Linked DNA regions of Homo sapiens: region 2 is linked to region 1. Evidence: fine-mapped expression QTL. Tissue or cell type: whole blood. Region 1 holds a variant in brackets; the other region holds the start of a gene. All regions are shown on one strand. Distances are from middle to middle.

What was found. PIP is the estimated chance that this variant, and not a neighbour inherited with it, causes the effect.
Region 2: RAI2 starts here. The variant in region 1 is fine-mapped to the expression of RAI2 in whole blood (TOPMed, PIP 0.94).

What each region holds. Positions count from the first base shown.
Region 1 is chrX:17,805,775-17,815,833 of GRCh38, forward strand. All of the region lies in intron 1 of RAI2 (retinoic acid induced 2), which reads right to left. Among named protein-coding and RNA genes, the nearest start is that of RAI2, 50 kb to the right of the region's middle. The variant T/TG (reference allele first, on the strand shown) is at 4,217.
Region 2 is chrX:17,857,550-17,867,608 of GRCh38, forward strand. RAI2 (retinoic acid induced 2) reads right to left here and starts at 3,749. Exons shown (of 2, transcript NM_021785.6): 1 at 3,549-3,749.

The DNA of each region.
Region 1 (10,059 bases):
AGAGTAGCCCTGGGCTTTTCTCTAGAGAGCTGCTGGCCCTGAGACAGGCTTGCCTGCCTCCACCTAGTCCCCACCAAGTATGGCGCTGGCCTTGGGACACCCAGGCAAAGGAACATGAACTTGGCCTTCATCATGCACCCTCCCACCTCCCAGAAAGCCTCGTTCGGTCTTTCTCACTACATCTCCTCCTCTTGCTGTTCAACCTGCCAGCAAGCACCCCACTCTGACTCTGAGTCAGCAGCTGAGGTGGTCTGGGTGCATCCAGTGGGAGCATAGTGGGTGTTGCTGCTGCAGGGGCTAATACTGGAAGCCTCGGCGATGCCCTAAGAATACAAAACTATCTCATGAATTGTGGGTTCAAAGGGTGAGTCTGTGTCCCTGAGGACAAGCCAAGTAGCCAGATAGTGACTGGAGAGAAGGTGGAGGCCCATCTCCCCACTCAGACAAGCTGCTGATTAGCTTGGGCCTAGGGTGGGTGGGGGACCTCTTCAAATCAAGGAGCATCAAAGGAGCCGGTTGATGCTCAAGCCCAGGGGGCATGAATTTCTTCAGAGGTGACAGGGAACATTTCGTTTGCGTTTTGCAAAACATTTTCAAATGGGTTTAAATGAGGGCACCCATCCATTCCACCTGTCCCCATTATCCCCAGGGGTGTGGGAGTGGAGGTCAGTAAACAGTGGCAGTGTGGCTGGGTAGGAAGCAGGCAACCTGGATCTGCAAGTTGCTGGAGACCCTGGAGACCTCACCATCTTGGTTTGCAGCCAGTTGCTAGGGCCTCACCCCCATGTAGCCCATGTGCCCCCTGTATGGAGACAGTGGGGAAAAGACTCAGGGCCCAGGACAGATGAGGAGGTAGGGAGGGACTGGGAGACTAGCTCTGCTTGCAGACTTTTGGGGTGTATTAATCTGTTCTCACACTCCTATAAAGACATACCTGAGACTGGGTAATTTATTATTAAGAAAAGAGGTTTAATTGGCTCACGGTTCTGTGGGCCATACAGGCTTCTGCTTCTGGGGATCAGGAAACTTACAATCATGGCAGAAGGTGAAGGGGAAGGAAGCACATCTTCACGTGGCCGGCAAGAGGTGGGGGGAGGTGCCACACACTTTTAAACAAGCAGATTTTGTTGAGAACTCTATCGTAAGAACAGCAAGGGGGAAGTCCTATGGTCCAATCACCTCCCACTAGGCCCCTACCTCTAACACTGGAGATTACAATTTGCCGTGAGATTTGGGTGGGGATACAAAGCCAAACCATATCATGGGGTCACAGAACTGTTATCTGAACCCCTCATCTAATTATTGCAAAGATCTAATTATACCAGAGGCCGGTCTCCCTAGGGTCTGACCATTAGCCTGGAGCTCTCTCCCACCTCAGCCTTCACCCAGCCAACTCCTGCTCATCTGTCTGACTTAAGGGGTTCAGCTCTAAAGTTGCTTCTTCTGAGATCATCCCCCACCCTCACTGGGCTCCCAAAGGACCCCAACTTGACTTTGTCTAGTCCTGACTCTGCCCAGCCCATACTGGGATTTCTTATTTACTTCTTTCTCCAGGAGCAGGGGATAGTCTCCCACCTCATATCTGGCACTAGTAGGTGCTGAGGAAATATCTTCTGGATGAATTGGTGCACAAATGAACGCCTAAGCCTTCCTGAGCCTGGTGTTCTCATCCTCACCCTCTTGTCGCAGGCACACCATTTATACACTCATGGAGTGTCAAGGTGGGCAGGGACATTAAAGCTGACATCTCAAGTCTCTTGCCGACTCTTTTTATTGATGAGTAAGCTGCAACTCAAAAAGGCTGACTAAAACTTACACAAGGCCACTTCTTACAGAGGTCACCAGGCTCTTGTTTCGGGAAGAGCAGAGGGTCAGACCCGCAGGTGCCATGGTGGGAGAACATGGCAGCCACTCACCTTCACCAGCCACGGGAGGCTCTGATGGGTCAGTGTTAGATGCCCGCAACCAACAAATAGGTGGATTTTAGGACTTGGAGAATAGCCTAAATTAGAGGTCAAGTATTTTGCTTTTTAAATTAAGCCATCTATCAAGGTAAGTTTCTTCCCCTACAACAATCACATCTTAAAACATATGCTGAAAATTTTCTCAAGATATGGGTTTTCCAATTGTAAAATATCAACAGCTTTGGTTTCTATGGAGCATGGAGACGGCTATCAATTATTTCTAGTCAAAGTAGGACTGTCTACCCAAGCTTGTCCAACTGGCGGCCCAAGGGTCGCATGCGGCCCAGACGGCTTTGAATGCGGCCCACACAAATTTGTAAACTTTCTTAAAACATTATGAGATTTTTTTTGCAATTCTTTTTTTTATCTCATCAGCTATCATTAGTGTATTTTATGTGTGGTCCAAGACAATTCTTCTTCCAATGTGGCCCAGGGAAGCCAAAAGATTGAATACCCCTGGATGCCCTTGTTGCTCAAAGTGGGGTCCTTGGAGCAGCAGCAGCAGCAGCACCCAGGATCTTGCTAGAAATACAAATCTCAGGCCACAGCCCAGACCCACTGAATCAGAATCTGCCTTCCAAACAGGGCCCCAGGAGATGTGTATGCACATTAAAGTCTGAGAAGTGCTGGTCTACCACTGGTTCTCAGATTTTGCTATTCATTGGAGTAATCTGGAACTTAAAAAAAAAACCATGCCTAGGTCCTACCCCTAAGACTCTGATTTAATTATTCTAGGATGCAGCAGGTGATTCTAATGTACAGTGAGGTTGCGGACCCTTAATCTAAAGGCCAGAGCACACGACTGCTGGTCTGCTGACCTTCTCAATCGCCCATCTTCCTTCTTACTTCCCAGAAAAGACTGAGGCTATCAACACACCAAACTCCCTCCTCTTCCCCCCCGGCCCCCGCAGTGTCTCCCCATGTGCCCTCACCCCCAGGAAGACGTGAGATGGCTCTCCCTCTTGCAAGGCTGACTTCCCAGAGACCTCTGCTAAGAATCTTGCCCCTTCCATCAATGCCCTATTCTGAGTCTATTTTGTGCTTTCCATTCAGTACTTAAACCAAACCTTCAATGACTAACCTAATTCTGCATAAAAATCACCAGCCACTCTCTATGAGCCAAGTAAGAAAAGCATAATTTTCATCATTTAATTCTACATGTACATGGTTTTACCATTCGGGACTTGAGATGCACTAAATATCTAAGAAGTAATTCCAACTGGGTAACAACTGGTTTTCCTCTCCCCATAGGGTATAATAATTGTCAATTACTTGCCCCAGTGGTTAAATTTTCTAAGCTTTAAACATCAGTACAGGTCCTTTTTACCAAAGCTGTGAACATAATTACCACATGAATGTAGTCTCAAATTGGTTAAAATATGAGGAATACACAAAATAGTCACCTGCCTTATGGTCGACTGCCTTTTACATCCAGAGGTCTACACAGCCCTCTGAAGGGAATATGAATGCCCAGATTAGCTTTACAGATGAGTTCCCTGACACGCTAATTCATTTATGAAAACAGTAGTGACCACAAACATTGCAACTGGGACTAAACTTCATGAGGACGGACAGTGGCTACGGGGAAGATCTGTTAGGGAGGACAGAGTACAAATATTATCTCTGATCTGATATTTGTGAAAAATAGGAGAAGTGGAGCCAAGCGTCAGAAACTGGCCATAAACAGCAGGAGGGCCCAAGGTCTTCCCAGTGAGAGGAGGTAAGGTCATGCCCTGAGGTATCATAAAACTTATTTATGTTTGTTTTATCATCTAATCTTTTTAATTCCTGTTTTTTATTTTATAGTGTATGTAATAAATATAGGAAGGCATATAAATCTAATTATATATGTGTGTGCATGTGTGTGTGTGTTAAGGGGAGTGCTCAAAATTTTTTTTTTCTAATAGGAGTGTGAGAATGAAAACGTTACAACTCAGCAGGAGAAATGAAGCTCTCAGGGCCCAGGGAGACTTCCAGGGTGCCCCTGCCTTAACAAGTCTTAGTGTTACTGGCCCAACCTACCCCTTCTGGGTTTTTTTGTGTTTTTGGGGGGAGAGTCTCACTCTGTTGCCCAGGCTGGAGTACAGTGTGCAATCATTACTTACTGCACCCTCAACCTCCAAGACTCAAGCAACCCTCCTGCCTCAGCCTCCTAAGTAGCTGGGACTACAGGTGTGTGCCACAATGCCCACCTGATTTTTACTTTTATTTTTGTTGAGACTGGAATCTCACTATGGTACCCAGGCTGGTCT[T/TG]GAACTCCTGGCCTCAAGTAATCCTCCCACCTCGACTTCCCAAAGTGCTGGGATTACAGGCATGAGCCACCGTGCCCGGCCCCACCCCTCTTGTTTTGAAGAACAGGAACCTGAGGCTCAGAGGAGAAGTGACTTGCTCAAGTTCACACAGCATAGAGTACACTGACTCCCAGACCCGTTCTCCTTCCTTAAAGGCACATTACCCCACCTGTTGCCTCTGTTTCACATTTCAAAGGATGTTGAGGAGCACTTGAGTTTAACACACGAGCTATAGAGTCAGCACAGTCAGTCACCCAAGATTAGAACATCTCTATTGGAACCAGCATCTAACGCCAAAGTATGTGGGATGGCTTTATTCAACCAACAAAATGTCAAAAAGTTTGACAGGTGAGGAGCTTGCTCAAAAAAAGAACACCCCCATGCCTTGACTCAGTGATATCCAAAAGATAAGTCATTGAAATGAAGAGATTCAGGACACACATGAACTTTTCATGACTGTTGGAATGTTGTTTTATACATCTGGGACTCAGTTTCCTCTTTTGTAACATGGGGGACTGCCCTACTCTCACTCAGGCCTCCTTGGAGCCAGTGGTGCCTGCTGGGGAGGAGTCAAACCTAGCCTCCCAGGAGCTGCCGGAGGAGGAATTGCTGTGGGCCCCAAAGGATGGGCAAGTGGGAGCACCAAGGAGGAATTGGAGGGAGGACGCCACCAGCTCCCAGGCCTGGTTTTCCAAGCCCCTACTACCTTCAGCCTGCCCGCAAAGGATCTATGATGGGTTTGGGGGCCCACACGGGCCTGACTGCAGGGCTACAGTATGGAACTAGATTTGTGGCCATTCATTTTTATTCATTCTTTCAAAAATGATGTGGGCACCTACTGTGTGCCAGGCATGCATCTCTTATTCCTCCAACCTGATACCACTTTCTTTGTAGGCAGGTTGCCATCTCTCTTGGCTCCATTCTGAAGATATTAACCAAATCCATATTATCCCAGGATTATCTGCTTTTAACAGGGCTCCTTTAAGGCTCACATTTCCTGCAGAGGTAAAGGAGTAAGTCTCTAAGGTAAGAATGCCAGTCCCTAGACAGCTGGAAGGGGTGATATTCATGCAAGGATCTCTCTAAGGAAAGGAACAAATGTATATTTTCTAGAGATGGCTGCTCCTGATACTAACAGGAATGAACTGCCTTCCTCAGGTCTTGGCAAACCTCAGCATCACAGAAGAAAATCATAAAGAGCTGCTGGTGGTGGTAGGGAACACTCACCTGGACAGGGGACTGTGAGAGTCAGCAAGTGCCCATCCCTGCATTGGGCCAATGCCCTACAGTTCGGTTGGACACCCAGAACCCCAAGCACCCTCAGGTGCTGCTGCTGGAACAGCCATCTCATGCAGGAGCTCAGGTCACGTTTAAGGTCTTGGGCCAAGGTCTATCATCTTAAAGAGCTACGGTTTTTGGACATTTTTCTGGCAACAAAGAAACCTCTTAAATTTGGAACAAAGAGGAGGAAAAAACCTGCCTCTGGAAGAGAAAATACTTCTAATTAGATTGAGATACAAAGGTTAAATTTTTGTTCTGGGAAAAAGACTGTTTATAATCCTGTGTCATTAGCAGGACATTTTCCAGAGACCAGTGTGCCAGAAATAGACCCTCTGAGGGGTCACTGGAAGGAAGGGGTGCAGATTTCTGAAGTACAAAGAACTGGAGTTCAGATTTTCCCCTTCTTCTAATGCATGTGAATCCCTTGCCACCCTTTGGCATGGAGACAGTGTCAGCCTCACCCTGGGCCCTGGGCCCCCTATGAGAGTGGTTAGGAGTATAAGCTTTGAACTTAGACAGGCCTAGGTTCAAACTTCAGCTCTGCCTAATTTTGCTAGCTGTGTGACCTGGGGCAAGTAAGTTCTCAGCCTCAGTTTCTCTCTGTGTAAAATGATTAAAAAAAAAAACCTGTCACATTGGGTGGTTGTAATGATTAAAGGAGATAAGCTAAGTGAAGTACTTGGCACAGTGCCTGACACACAGAAAGTGCTCAGTAAATCATGGCAATTATTGTATTGTCATCATCATCACTGGTACCATCATCAATGTCATTAGCATTATTGTTGTCAGCACTGTCGATACAGTCTTCATCTTCACCATCATTCTCATTGTCAGTGCCATCATCATCATTGTGCCATTGGCATCATTGGCATCATCAGATCCACCGGCCATATTTCTTGTGAGCATCTTGAGTAGTATCACCCATGCTCCCTTTGCACCTGAATGGCTTTATTCATTCGCAACCCTGTTTGTTCAAAGATTCATGTAAAAATCAGCTACTAGGAACTAAGAAGGCACTTACCATAAGCTTGGTGTTACACCTGACGGGAAGGTTTCCAGGCCAGCCCACAAAAACCCACCTAACACCCAACATAGCTGAAATGAGCATTTGAAGTGAAAACAGAAAACAATGCTCTCCCAATGTTAGAAATTAAATATAGTGGGAAGACAAATAAATACACAAATCTGTTTCTCATTCAGACTGAAAGCCTGGGGGAGAAAGAAAAGGTGGCCAGAACCTTTTGTATCTTGAATATGGACTCATGAGCACTTTCAAGGGTTCGGAAGTTACTGCTGATTGACCGCACATAATTTCACTTCATATCCTTCAGTTTTCCTTCTCCTTTGCACGAGAGCTTAAGTAGCTCTCCTCTCCTACTTTTCAGTGGCGATGAAGCTCATTTTCTCACTCACAAAAACATGGAAGAAGTGGAAGCGGAGAGGATGAGGGTAAGGATAAGAGGGAGAGAGAAAGCAAAGAGCCTTTTTGAGGTAACTAGGCAAGAGTCGAAGGAGAGAAGATTCAAAAGTTCATGTAGGTCCAAAGGAAAGATTGGTTAGCTATAACAGAAGAGTGAAAGAACACAGAGAAACTGAGGAAAGCTGTGAGGAAAACACTGAATGAGAGTTACTTAGCTGGCCACAAGGGGATGCTGTAACCTACAATAGCTTGGTTGCAGGACAGCAGGGTGGAGGGAGAGACAGGACTGGAACTTCTTAGCACAGTGAGGACATGGTAAAAAAAATAAAATATAGCATTGTTTACAAGTCTGAGTACTGCAAGTACTTAGGGAAGGTGCTCCAAATTTGGGCAGAACTTCTCCTATGCCTCTAAAATCATCAAGCACATCCCCTTGTGGCTTGGCTGAGTTATCAGTCCCAGGAAAAAAATCTAAATGTACCTTCTTTCTGTGTCTAATATTTATTTTTGCCTACCCGCCAGCTCCTCCAATCTCTCCTTGGATAGTCAGAATTATTAGATTTCTCCCATCAAAATTGGGTTTTCCAGAAAGAAGCTGATAAACTCATTCTCAATGAGGTGCATGACTGATAAGGCTGAAGTATTATGTTCCTTTATTGGTATAATAAAGATAATCCAGCCAGTAATAAAGCTATGGACAAAGAAATGAAACTATAATTGAGTCATTTCAGATACTGGTCATGGGGAGGAACCTTCCTAGCTGTCTTGAAATCTCTCCATAGAGATAAGAACCGACAACTATGATTAAGTTTGCGGGGCCCATTGGAAGGCACCTGAGATCAAATAAAGGGGGCAGGGGCGTGACCTTGACCCTTAAGCACTCAGAACTAAGGAAGGACATGAATGTGAGTCAATTATTCATTCCTTTACAGACACAATCAGCAAACACTTATTGCTCACCCAACATGAACCTCCTGAGTACGTGCCTCCCTGGTGCAGAGATTTTAGCAGCATCCAAAGTTGTCCAGGGCCCTGTTACTGAACTGGCTACCTCCTGAAACGCTGGTTTCTGTCTTACCAGGTTTCCATGCAGAAGTTAGGGCTCTCAAAGGACTGCACTCCCATGCACAACACCCTACTGCAGCGCTACAGCCACAATGGCAACTTCATGACCATCACCTATTATGTGCTTTGAATCATTACTAACGATGGTGATGAACAGGGCAAGGGGAGTGAAGAGAGGAGGCTGTTGGGTTTTGGTGAACTCAACTAGCTAGTTGTCTTAGCTTGGGCTCCCCCACAAACAGACCCTGAGGCAAGGATTAACTGAAAGTAATTTATTTGGGAGAAGATCCCAGACAACACCAGTAGAGGAGTGAAGTGGTGAGACAGGGAAAGCAAGGAAGCCAATTTATCAAACAAGTTACCACTGTGGGCAACTGAAGCTCAATTCCACTGGGGAGACCTCAGAGTCATCTCAACCGAGAGGCTAGGAAGTTGGGCTGTTTATTCACCCGCCCCCATCCATCACTGGCCAAGGGCTGCTCCTGGAGGATGTAGTCATTCCTTGGCACTTCCAGCTAGCCCAGCATGCAGATCTAGTGTGCTCCTGAGACAAAAACCAAAAACCAAAAACTCACACCTTTAGGGAGCATCATGGATGTTTGCAGTAAGTAGCATTTGGTGTATAAGAGGCCAGTCTGGGCAGGAAATGGCAGGACACCGACAAATGTCTGCTACACCAGCCATGGCCTGGAAAGTCTCAATGCTTATGTGAATATCGAAATGTCATTAATTTAGGCCACCATGACCAAATGTTTCCCCAGTTGGTGGTACCTTCTGTAACCCCTGTGAAGAAGACACTCCTTTATAATAACAATGCTCACACTACAGGGGAATCAGCTCAAAAGGGGTGTGACTCAAGATCTTATAAAAAAAACAAGACACACGAGGGGGCCAGAGATGACTATCTTTCCAAAAGCAAAACGTTCAAGAGATGGTCAGCATAGCTAATGTGTTCCTTTGCTAAAATATAACTGGGGCCCTCCAGAAAGTTCTTTGAATCATATTTGTGCTGGCTGGAATGCAAGATGTTCCTGGGATGAGTCACAGAGGGAGTTTCTTTTCTGGTGATCTTGTGTTCCAACTCGGGGACCAAAAATCAATAAATAAACACTACTTCACTTCATCAGCTGCATGCTGCCTAATAATAATAATAATAATAATAATAATAACCTCGACCCGAGAAGTACAGACAATGCAGGAAAGAGAGGGTGAAGAGTACTCATCTTTTAGACAGGGAAGCTTCTTTCTGGAATTCTGTTTTGTCAAAAGCAGAACAACATCCTCCGCAGAATCTTAGGGTTGGTGAGGCTTTTGAAGTCCCTAAAAACTCACTGTATGTGTCCTAAAGCAAGTATCATGGTTGGAGCTAATATAGCATAAACAATACGAAGTTGGGGTGGGGGAAGGAAAAAGATCGGCTGTATAACATCTGGCTAGTTAGCAATAACGATTATAGGTATTATTTCCTATTTTATTGGGGGAAGAGTTCCAGAATGCATGTGTTTGCACACATACATGTGCACACGTGCACACACACACACACACACACACACACACACACACACACAGAGTGGCCAAGTAGGAGTGAAGCCACCTGTTGTCCCTCTAATAGTCAAGGGGGATCCTTAAATCAGGATTCTCCCTCCTCACCTGTTCCACCTCAGGTATTTTTTTCCCTCTGAATTCCAGTCATCAAATCTTTATTGTTGCAGCTGACCTGTGAACTGGACCTTGCCACATGAGTAGGATTTTGGCGCAGGAGATGGTGGAATGGAGGAGGGTTTTCCAAAAGTGCAGGACAGAAGGAAAGGCAGAAGAGGACAGGTGTGTCTGGGGCAGGCTAGTAGGTTAGGTGCCTGAAGCCCAGGGCTGGTGAGGCTTAGCGGAGAGTCAAGAGTGCTTCAAACATTAGAGGGGTTATCTATTAGGTTCATGCAAAAGTAATTGCGGTTTTTGCCATTCCTTTCAATGGTAAAAACTGCAATTAATTTTGCACCAACCTAGTAGCTCTTTTAAAGGGTGTTCAGAATCACCCATC
Region 2 (10,059 bases), 52 kb after region 1:
GGAATAATCTTGCCCATCTCCCATGGATTTTGTAAAGATTAAACTGGGGCTTGTCAGCATGGAGCTACCAAGGGCTAAAACTGGAATATGACACCAGGAACTTCAGGCCCCCAACCAAACGTACAAATCTCTGGATCTCTCCTTGCTGGGTCTCCCTTAACAATGATCTACAGCCCCCTCCCCACTGCCATTCACTCCATCAGTGCCATCATTTAGTCACTCAACTCTCATTTATTAAGCAACAGTTGGGTGGTGGGGACTCCAAGATGAAAGGGTACAGTCTGTCCATCTGACACAGGGTATTTCGGATCTATCTACTTGGCACATAAGTATGCACTGTGGGTGACTGGGTTGCCCACTGGTGGGCTTCCACCTTCCCCCCAATCCCCACCAACTGTGTACCAGATTTTGCCAAGGTGGAGGGGCTGAAAGATCCAGCAGGAAGAGATCCAGAGATTTGTATGTTTGGTTAGGGGCCTGGAGTTCCTGGTGTCATACTCCAGTTTTAGTCCTTCGTGGTTCCATGCTGACGTGTCCCACTTTAATCTTTACAACGTCTATGTGAGATGGGAAAGATTATTCCCATCTTGTAGGTAAGGAAACTGAGGTTCAGACAGGTTAAGAGAAATAAATAAGAGACCTGGAGCAGGGGAATAGGGACATGTTGCCCCTTTAAATCATAACCACCAAAGTCTGAAATCAGATACACAACTGGAAATTTATCTGAGCCTCAGATTCCTTATCTGTAAAATAATTCTTCCATCACAGGGTGGCTGAGAAGGTTTACCACATGTGAAGTGCCTAGCAGACAGAGGCCAACAATACATGTTAGTTCCCTTCCCAATTTATTTCCCTCCACTACCATCCTCTCCAAAATTCTAAGCTTAGGGGAGAAGCCAGAGAACAGACGTTTCCTATTTTCTTATCATAAATTTGGAGCACGCTGTGCAGGGCTTTCTGCACATCCAGAGTATCTCCATTCTGGATCAATGGATTTGGGAGGCCAGTCCTATCCTCAGCTTCTGGGTCATTACAGCTAGAGCACTCCCAGCAACAGCTCCTCACACACCTTCCAGTCTTTGATTTTTCTTTCTTGTAGTTCAGATGGTCCTGTTTCAGGGACTCTGTATTCTGGATACAAGATTTTGAAATGTGTCTTACAGTTCTTCCCCAGCTGCCCACCAAACCGTGTTCTCACCCCAGCGATCGGCATCGCTTGGAAAACTGTCTTTTCATTTGTTCCTCAGATGAACAGGTTTTCCTGGGCAAAACATCACCACTGGAGGTCTTGGCTTTTTTTCATCATAAAGGAACCCCCTCGGGTGGCTGAATGGTCCCCTGGGCTGGTGCCAAAGTAGTCACTACCCCCAAGTTCCAGTCTGACTTGGTTCATAGTGCCTGGGCTGCCCTGGGGATGCCTCTAGTGGGCATCTGTCAGGACGAGAAGCGAGTGCCCATTTGAAGGAGACTGTGTGTATGTGGGGGTGTGGGGGCAGGTGGCTTCTCTGGGCTTGTAAGAGGCAGAGAAACTGGGATGCCACCATCTTACAATTCTCTGCCTTCCAGCCCACCCCTGGCTTCTCATGTTCCCGTTTGAGAAGAAAACTAGCCTCCATACTGTCCCCTTCCGTATTGTCCCCCTCCCACCTTGCCACCCCTCTACTGTAACAAAGGCATGTCCACACCACATTTTCAAAGTTGTCACAAGTCTCTCGGTCCACCAACAACCAATTCTGATGACTCCAAAGGAGCAAGAGAGACATCCAGAAAACGGTGGGAAAGATTCCCTGGGAAAAGCACAGAAAACCTTGCCTGATGCTTGCAAGGCTAAGAATTGTTTTCTCCCTGCTGGCTGCTTTTCTCTCTGTTCTAAAGAGAAGCTTCCAAGAATCAGTTAAATAAAGGGATCACACCAGAGGATGCGAGATAATGCTAAACCAACAAAAACAAAGACCCAAATGAAACAGACAGAGCCATGAGAATACGCGGTTATCAAAACTTTGTTTGGCCATATCTATTTATCATCGCTGCACACCCGGGCTCTGCGGAATATCATTCTGTTGATGTCACTTATCCTCAGCAAAATATTTACACATCCTTAAAAACGCCAGATGAGGGGGGCCGGCCCGCGCACTGCCGCAAGCCGCCCCTCAAACCCCATCGCTGGGTTCTGAACAGCCCACGACATAGGGGCACGACGGTGGGTGGCACCAGCGGGCACAGGTGAGAGCTACCAACAGTTCCGGGAACACGGTCACCCAGACGCTGCGCCGTGCCCTCCCCACCTCTCCCCTACCTGACTCTGCAAGCAGCAGCCACATACCCGATATGGTGTCGGCGCCTCCTTGTCCTCCTCTCCTGCCTTTTTCATTGATTAAGTTCTCAAACCATTGTTAAAGCTGGGTTGCTTTTTCCTTGGAAAACTGGGCTAAATTCATTAAGCTTCCCTCTGCCACAAAAGGAATATTCATAAAAGTTTGGCAGGCAGAAAGGGAGACTGAGTGAGTGCCATGGTGTGGGTAACAACCCGCTCCTCCAAAGCCACCTTCTTCTTCCGTGCCCCATCCCTCTCTCCATCCATCCGTCGTGCCCCAAACCTACTCCAAGGACTTCTGATAGGGAAACACAAAGCAGCAGCTGTTTGGCAACATTTCTACCCCTCGCCAGCAACTGTGGTGGGATGCCATTTCCCCACCCAGGCGGAGCTTATCCTGAACAATAGTCGGGCTTTAAATGGCAAACAAGCAAACACACAGAGCACAACCCCAACCCCGAAAAAGCCACCGCGGAGAGAAGCAATAACTCCCTCCGCAGCAAAAGGCGCCACTGAAACGCACGCAAAAATGCAGCGAGAACGTTGCTCGGTGCCTAACATGGCAGAAAGCCCGAGCTGGTGCGGCCACCCCGGGGCTGGGCATTGGGGGGCACCGGGGCTCCCGGGGCGCCGACGCACACTCACCCGGCTCCGGGGGGGATGCGGGGCTGGCCGCGCGTCACAAAGAGGAGCCCGGCGCAATCTGGCAAAACCCAACTTTCCACCAGGCTCGCCAGGGCCGCCAGATACGTCAACAGAATCCATCTTTCGAAGGGCCTGGAAGGCGCCGGGTTTTCCGGGCCGGGGCAGAACGGCAGATCCGGAGACTGCCCGGTGCGGTGCCTGGGCGCGGAGTCCGCCGTGCACCGCCCTCTGCGCCCGATGCCAGTGCGGGCGGCGGCCCGAAACCCACTTCGGGGCCCCCGCCCCGCCGGCCGGCGCCGCCTCCCCGGCAGTCCCCGGCCCCGCCGGCCAGTGCGCGGCGCCGGGAACGGGAGCGGGGCCCCGGCGCGCCACACGGGCGGCGGCCTCGGCCCGCGTCCCCGCCCCCGCCCGGCCCTCCCAGCCGGCCCCGGCCTCCGGGCGCCGTCCTGCCCCCGGGAGCAGGCCCCTCCCCGGGCGCCGGGCCCCGCCAGGCGCGCCCAGCCCGGCGCGCCCCCTGCGTCCCGGTGGCAGCTCCGCGCGGGGAGGGCGGGGGTGACCCCGGCCCGCACGGGGGCGCCGCGGCCACTACCTCGCAATCGCGGCCGCCGCCTCCAGGAAGCCGCGGGGTGGTCGAGTGTGCTGGAACTCTCCGGTCTGGCCTCGCCGCCGGCCGCCTGAAGGGGGTGCGCCGCGGTGGGAGCCGCCGTCGCCGCTGTCACCGAGTCGCTGTCGCCGCCGCCGCTGCTGGTTGTGCGTGAGCGTGTGTGCGCCTGTGTCCTGGCGAGTGTGTGTCTGCGTGCGGCGCCCGGCCTTTACTATATACACCAAGGGGTGGGAGGAGGCGGGGAAGGGGAGGGCTTGGGGGAGGCGGCGGAGGAGGGGGAGCAGGAGGGGGGCGAAAGGGTACCCGAGGAGGCGGCGGCGGAGGAGGGACAGGTGATCTCGCCCACGGGGAGGGCGTGGCCGTGGGCGGCGCGGGGTGCCAGGAAGAAGGGGTGTCGGGGCGGGGAGGAGGACCTTGGGGGGAGCGCCGGGGGAGGGCCGGAGGAGCTGGGACCCTACTGCCTCCCGGCGGGCTGGGGACCATTCCAGACCCCAGGATGGAGAAGAGCGAGGAACAGAGCCCAGAAGGGAGGAAGTGGCTGGCTGATGGAAGCGGGGGAGGTGGGAAGGGCTCAGCGATCACCCGAAAATGCCAATTGTGATACCGGTGGAGGATGCTTCTCACAAGGTGGGAGATTAGGAAAGATCAAATTAGTCCACCTACGTAATGTAATTTCCATCCAAGAGGTGATTCATGTATCAATCTAACCTTTATTAAGCGCCTAGTGTTTGCCAGATACTGGGCAAAGAACTGGAGTTACAGGGACGGTGACTGTATGATTGCTGACCAGTAAATAAGTAGTAGGTGTCAGTTGTACTATTGATCATTTTAAAACTGAAAACAATAAACCCTTAGAATTCTTGAGACAGCCAAGGAAGCAACCAAATTGGTTTAATGATTCTCCAAAGATGTAAAGATTTTTTTCTATTAATCAAAACAGGATGAAGATATTTGAGAGAGAATAGCAGAGCAGAAATTATTTAATCAGAGCAGAGAATAAAATGAATCTAGTTGTTCTTGGTAGTCTCGAGCCCCCTGAAGTTCCAATACTGTGTGTATTAAACATGACTTTCCTCTTATCAAATCTGAGTTTTATAACACAGTTTATAATTAGTATGGGAGCCTGAACTTGTGTTTGAAAGGCTGTATTCTAACTATGTTGTGTTGCAAGCATAAGGTGGTAGTAACTGAGGCTGAATGATGTCTGTCTTGAGCACTTTTGCCTTTGTGGACTCCTTCCTCCGTAGAAAGATATTACAAATTACATTTTACAATTGCATTTGTGTAAAGATGAATATAATAGCATTATATATTAAAACAGTTTCTTCAACCTAAAAATTCATTTTTTCTTCTGATTTTAAAAGAAATTAAAAGATTTATGTGGGTCCCTAAACATGAGCCCCAGGCACTGTGTCTACTATGCCTAAGGGAGAAGTCAGCCCTGGTAGTACCATTCCTTGATACTGAATTTCCTCTTTTGAAAAAGAAGAGTTAAATTAAGAAGTACCCAGACCACACAGGGGTGGAAAGACACACAGTGCAAGTTTAAGAATTGATAATAATGAATATCAACAGAAAGTGTCAGTTTCTACTTGTTTCAATCAGGTTTTGGGGGGTTTAAAATCAGCCCCAACTAATTAATGATACCTGTGGAAATATTTATGAATGTGTCTTCAATCATTTCAGCAACCAAAGACTTCCTCTATAGATCTCATAACTGTTCTAAGTTCTTGGATAAGGTATGTGAGGTCTCGGTTGCCAAGACCTAGCCTGAATCCAACTAAAGACACAGCTGGGCAATTATAATTGGGCAAGTTCATGGATGAAAGATCCATAAAGGTTTTGTGTGTGTTGAGGGGGTATGTGTGTATAAGGTAGGGATTGATATCCTGGAAGGCAATTACTAGCCTATTTCTTTTGTTGGCCTCATCACAACCCTGGGTTAATGTTTGATCCTCACTGGCAGTTGTGATTCATATTTGCTGCCCTTTGAGGTGCTTATGTTTTCAGGAAAGATTATATTGATTCAGATTAATGCAGAAGAAATAGGCTTCATGGCCCCCATTCCCAAATAAACATACAGTGGCACCCTTCTGCCTTTTCATCCTGGCTGCCCTTGCAAAGGGAAGGAAAAAAGGTTCATAAAGGGTGGGTCTGGATTTGTGTGTGCGTGTGGGGTGGTGCTTTGGGACAGAAATAGGACATTAATGTGGAATAATTTTGTTCATACAGTTAAAGGGGTGCCTAAGAAAATGGAGGGAAGAAGGAACATGCCGAAACAGCAGGAAAGAACAACCTCAAAATCTTCCAGGATGGGTCAGGGTGATTTTTGAGATCTGTAATTGTAATATTTGGTGATTTTAAATAAGTACCCAAGAAATTTCCCATCCCAGATCTTATTCTTTTTACCCATATCCTCCTTCTCTCATACAGCATCTCCTTATAATCGAGTTTCCACATACTTGCCAGATGAGCGATTAGTTTGTTTATCCAATAAACATCTATTAAGCACCTACTAGCTGCACAGTCACTGAGCTAAGGATGTGGGTTAGAGATATGGTGAATACATGGTTTCTGACCCCAGTATGCTCACAGATTATTAAGAACTGTTAATAATACAATTTGACATTGTGTGGTACATGGTGAGTTATAAAATAGGCTGGGTGAACACCCAAGGAGTGGGCCTATTCCTGCACTGGGAAGGAATAGGGAATGGCATGGGGCAGGGAAGTCAGAAAAGGTTGCCAGAGATGGTGACAGTTGCTGAGTGCTGAGAGACAAATAGAAGTTTCCAAAGTAAACAAAAGGCATTATAAGTGAAGGGAACTGAAGCTGGGATGCAGAACACTATCTAGAGGCTGCAGATTTTTTGTAAGTCCAGAGTAGAGGCTGTGAGGAATAGTAGAGGAGGGGGAAAGGGAAGCTACAGGTCACTTGAAGTCCCTGGTCTGTCCTGTCAAGGAGCTTTTCCTTGCAGTCAGTGAGAACCATTGAAAGGCTTTAAGCAAGGGAATGACAAGGAAAGATTTGGATTGAGGAATGATCACTCTGTTGGTTGGTGTGGTGGGCTGATCAGAGGGAGGTGAGATTGGCAGCAGGGAGACCAGGTAAGAGAGGCTGTTGCAATGATTGGTCCTGCCAGCAGAGATGAAGAGTAGGAACTTGAGTCAGGTGGTACTTGGGATGCAGAATCAACAAGGCTTGATGATGGAGGAAACAGGAGTAAGGGTGACTGACACCTGGTTTTCTGACTTGGGTGACAGGGTGGGTGGGGGCGTGGTCACTGAGATAGAGGTCCCTAGGAAGAGAAGCAGATTTGGGGCTGGCAATGACAAGTGTCGTAGGTTCCCCCAGAAGCATATCCTGAGACAAGGATTCCAGTGCAGAAAGTTGATTTGGGAACTGAAGGAAACACTGTAGGGGAGGAGGGAAGGAAGCCAGAGGGACAGCCATCAATGGGAGGCATGTTCACAAGGCCAGTTACCACTGTGAGCAACTGGAGCTTAATCCCACAGGCAAACTCTTGGACAGGATACCAAGCACCCACTCCAGAGATGAAGAAGCTAGTTAAGAGCAGTCCAGGGGGTGCTGATTTTCTGGCAATTCCAACCTACCACCCAGCATAGGCAGAAGATCCTTCCCAAATACAGAGAGAAGATCCTGGCAGCTGGATGTCTGTGGAGCACATTAAAGTGGTAGCACCCAAGGGATGTGGGTGGTGCATCATCAGTATCTGCTCCAGGGAGTTCTGGTTAAGACATCTCGAATTGGAGGTGCCTGTTGATTAGCCGCGTAGAGCTGTCCAGTAGGCATTTGGAAGAGTAGATCTGGAGTTCAAAATTTAAGTTGCAGACCAGGATTTTGGAGTTGTTAGGCCCCGGGTGTTGGTTGAACCAGTATTACTTGGTGAACTCTGTAGAAGACATGTGTGAATTGGGCTGGTGGCTGAGCCCTTCACCCTGGGGTACACCAACACAATCTGACCTCATCTTTATGAACATGTGGGTTTCTCAAGGGGTTCCTGAAAGCCCTGAAATTGTAGATGTCAGTTTAATGCTCACCGGTGTGAATGCATCTGGGGAAATTGTCTATTGCTTTCAAGAGATTCTTAACTTCTTAAGGGGTCTATATTTTACTGAAGTGGAATAATGTATTTAAAATGGAAACTTTGTTTTACAAATGTTTTCGTGGTTAATAATATTTACTGGGTGATTGAGTGAATGAGGCAGGCATTTGAAAACATAATCACAAGGCAGAAGGAGAAATGCTGAAGAAAATGCAAGGGATAACTGAAGCACAGAGGACCGAAATCAAACCCAGGTTTAGGGAAAGAGGATGGAAAGCATTCAGAGAAACAGTCCAACGAGAATGACATTTTTACCTGAGGAATGTTCAGAGCTCATGAGGTGAGGGAAAGGTTTTGACTCTTTGGATGGGACAGAGACATCTACTGCGCTCTGCATGGGGGTGGGGAGTTTCAGTATTCTTCATCTGAGGACTTCCTATGAACTGTTTTATGCACTTTGGATAAAATTAGCAAAGACTGGATCAAAGGATATGTGAGTTGGTCCTTTAGTTTGGCAATCAGTAAGTATATACTGAACAGCTATTACTTTAAAGTACTAAGCTACCTGCTAGAAAGCAAAGAATAATAAAGTACCATCCCTGCACTGCATTGAAGCCTCTCATTGTCCAGTTGTAGCTCTGTCTAGTCTCACAAGCAGTAGAGCATTGCATTTCATAGAGATTTTTGAGAAATTATCACAAGTAAGAAGCAAGCTCATTATAAAGGGCTTTGCTTGTGGCTGCTGTATTCTGTATTCTCCATTTTTCTTTCCTAACAGAACACTAATATTCAGACTTCCATCCCTCTCCTGTGAAACCTATGTACCTTAGAATTTCATCCTATATTTAGGGTAGGTCTATTTGAGCTAAGAAAAATTGCATCCCTCTTGCTATAATTAGGGCCAAATAAATGAGAGGAGAGGTTTGCTGGGGATTCCCAGCTAAGTTCTTACTCTCTAGGAGAGCATCCCTCCCTCTCCTGATGGATGTGAGGCTAATGTAACTCCATTTGCAACTGGCAGCAAAAACATTATGCAGGTGACCACATAGTTGATCACCTAAAGCAGGATGCTACTGAGGGTGAAAGGGGTTGCTATTAACAACTATGTCAGGGGAAAAGGGATAAACTGGGTCTTTCCAGTAAACCAGGATGGATGGTCACTATTACGCTAGGAACCAGGCCTAGAAAGGAGTTGATGCTCAAGGCATCACAGCAAAAGTAGAGAAAGAACTTAGGACCATGGCTAGGTTGTGGAACTACTAGAATAAGCAGCTCTAGAGCCAGCCAACCATGCACTTCTGGTTATGTAAATTATTACACTGCTTTATAGGTTAAGCTTCTTTGAGTCAGGTCTCTATCACTCGTAATTTCATTGAAAGCATCCTAAGACATACATGCAGTAACTGGGTTGTCTTTGTTTTGTTTTACCTCCAATTCTGGGGATAAAGGCCATTCTTGAGTCAAGCAATCTGACAAAAACAAGTGTAGGGAAGAAGTAGGTTATGGATCATCATGGTAAACTGACTTTAAAGTCAAACGAAGGCGATAATCTAAACTAAAACGCGGGTGAAGGCCCACTGTGCATGGGGCGGTTTCTGTTTTAGCCATGCCTTCAAGGCACACTGCTGCCTCTGATGGAGGAGGGCAAGACTCCTGTGCAAGGGGTCAGGATGGGGAACGTCTGTCCCCTGCTCTGTCAAAGTGGCTTCGAGTAAGCTCTCCTCTCCCTCTGGGACGTAGATGCCTCACACCAGTGGTAGCCGTCCTTGCCCTTGCCTCTCATCTCTCTGAGTTGATGGTGCACGTTGAGGGAGGCCTCATGGCTTGCACCTCCTGCAGACGCCACTTTAGTTCTCCCGGTGTGGGCAGCCTGCAGTAAGTAGTTGTTGAACTCACTGCTATCTCCCTTCCCATTTGGGCTTGGTCTCTTACTCCGAAAGAGCTGGAACAGCCACTTCTCCTACAAGTATCATGACCGTCAAACACACCTTCCTTTTCGGTGTGGAGGGGGGATGTGGGCAGAGTGGGGTTGGGGTTGGAGTCATGTGACTGTCACTTGAGGCCACGAGGGTTTGCCCAAATCCATGGAGAGCCCTGTACAAGCCACGTGAGAAGCCAGGCTGCATGAGACAGAGTAGGGTCCACGAAGGTCACCAAGGAAGGACCAGAACATGATTATAGCCCCAGTAGAGAGTTGAAGTCAGGGGCATGAAATTATAAGGCAAGGGATGTCAGTGAAGTGAAAAATACACCCAGATTTGTTTTGGGCAGTGAATTATCTTGTTGGATGGGACACCTGTGCCAACTGTGGCATGAGTGTGGGTGAAATACTGGCACATCACAGACCAGGGGTAGGAGAGTTCAGAGATGACCCCGCACAACCCAGCCTTCGCATGCAGAACATGAGGCTCAGAGATGTTTGCATAGAAG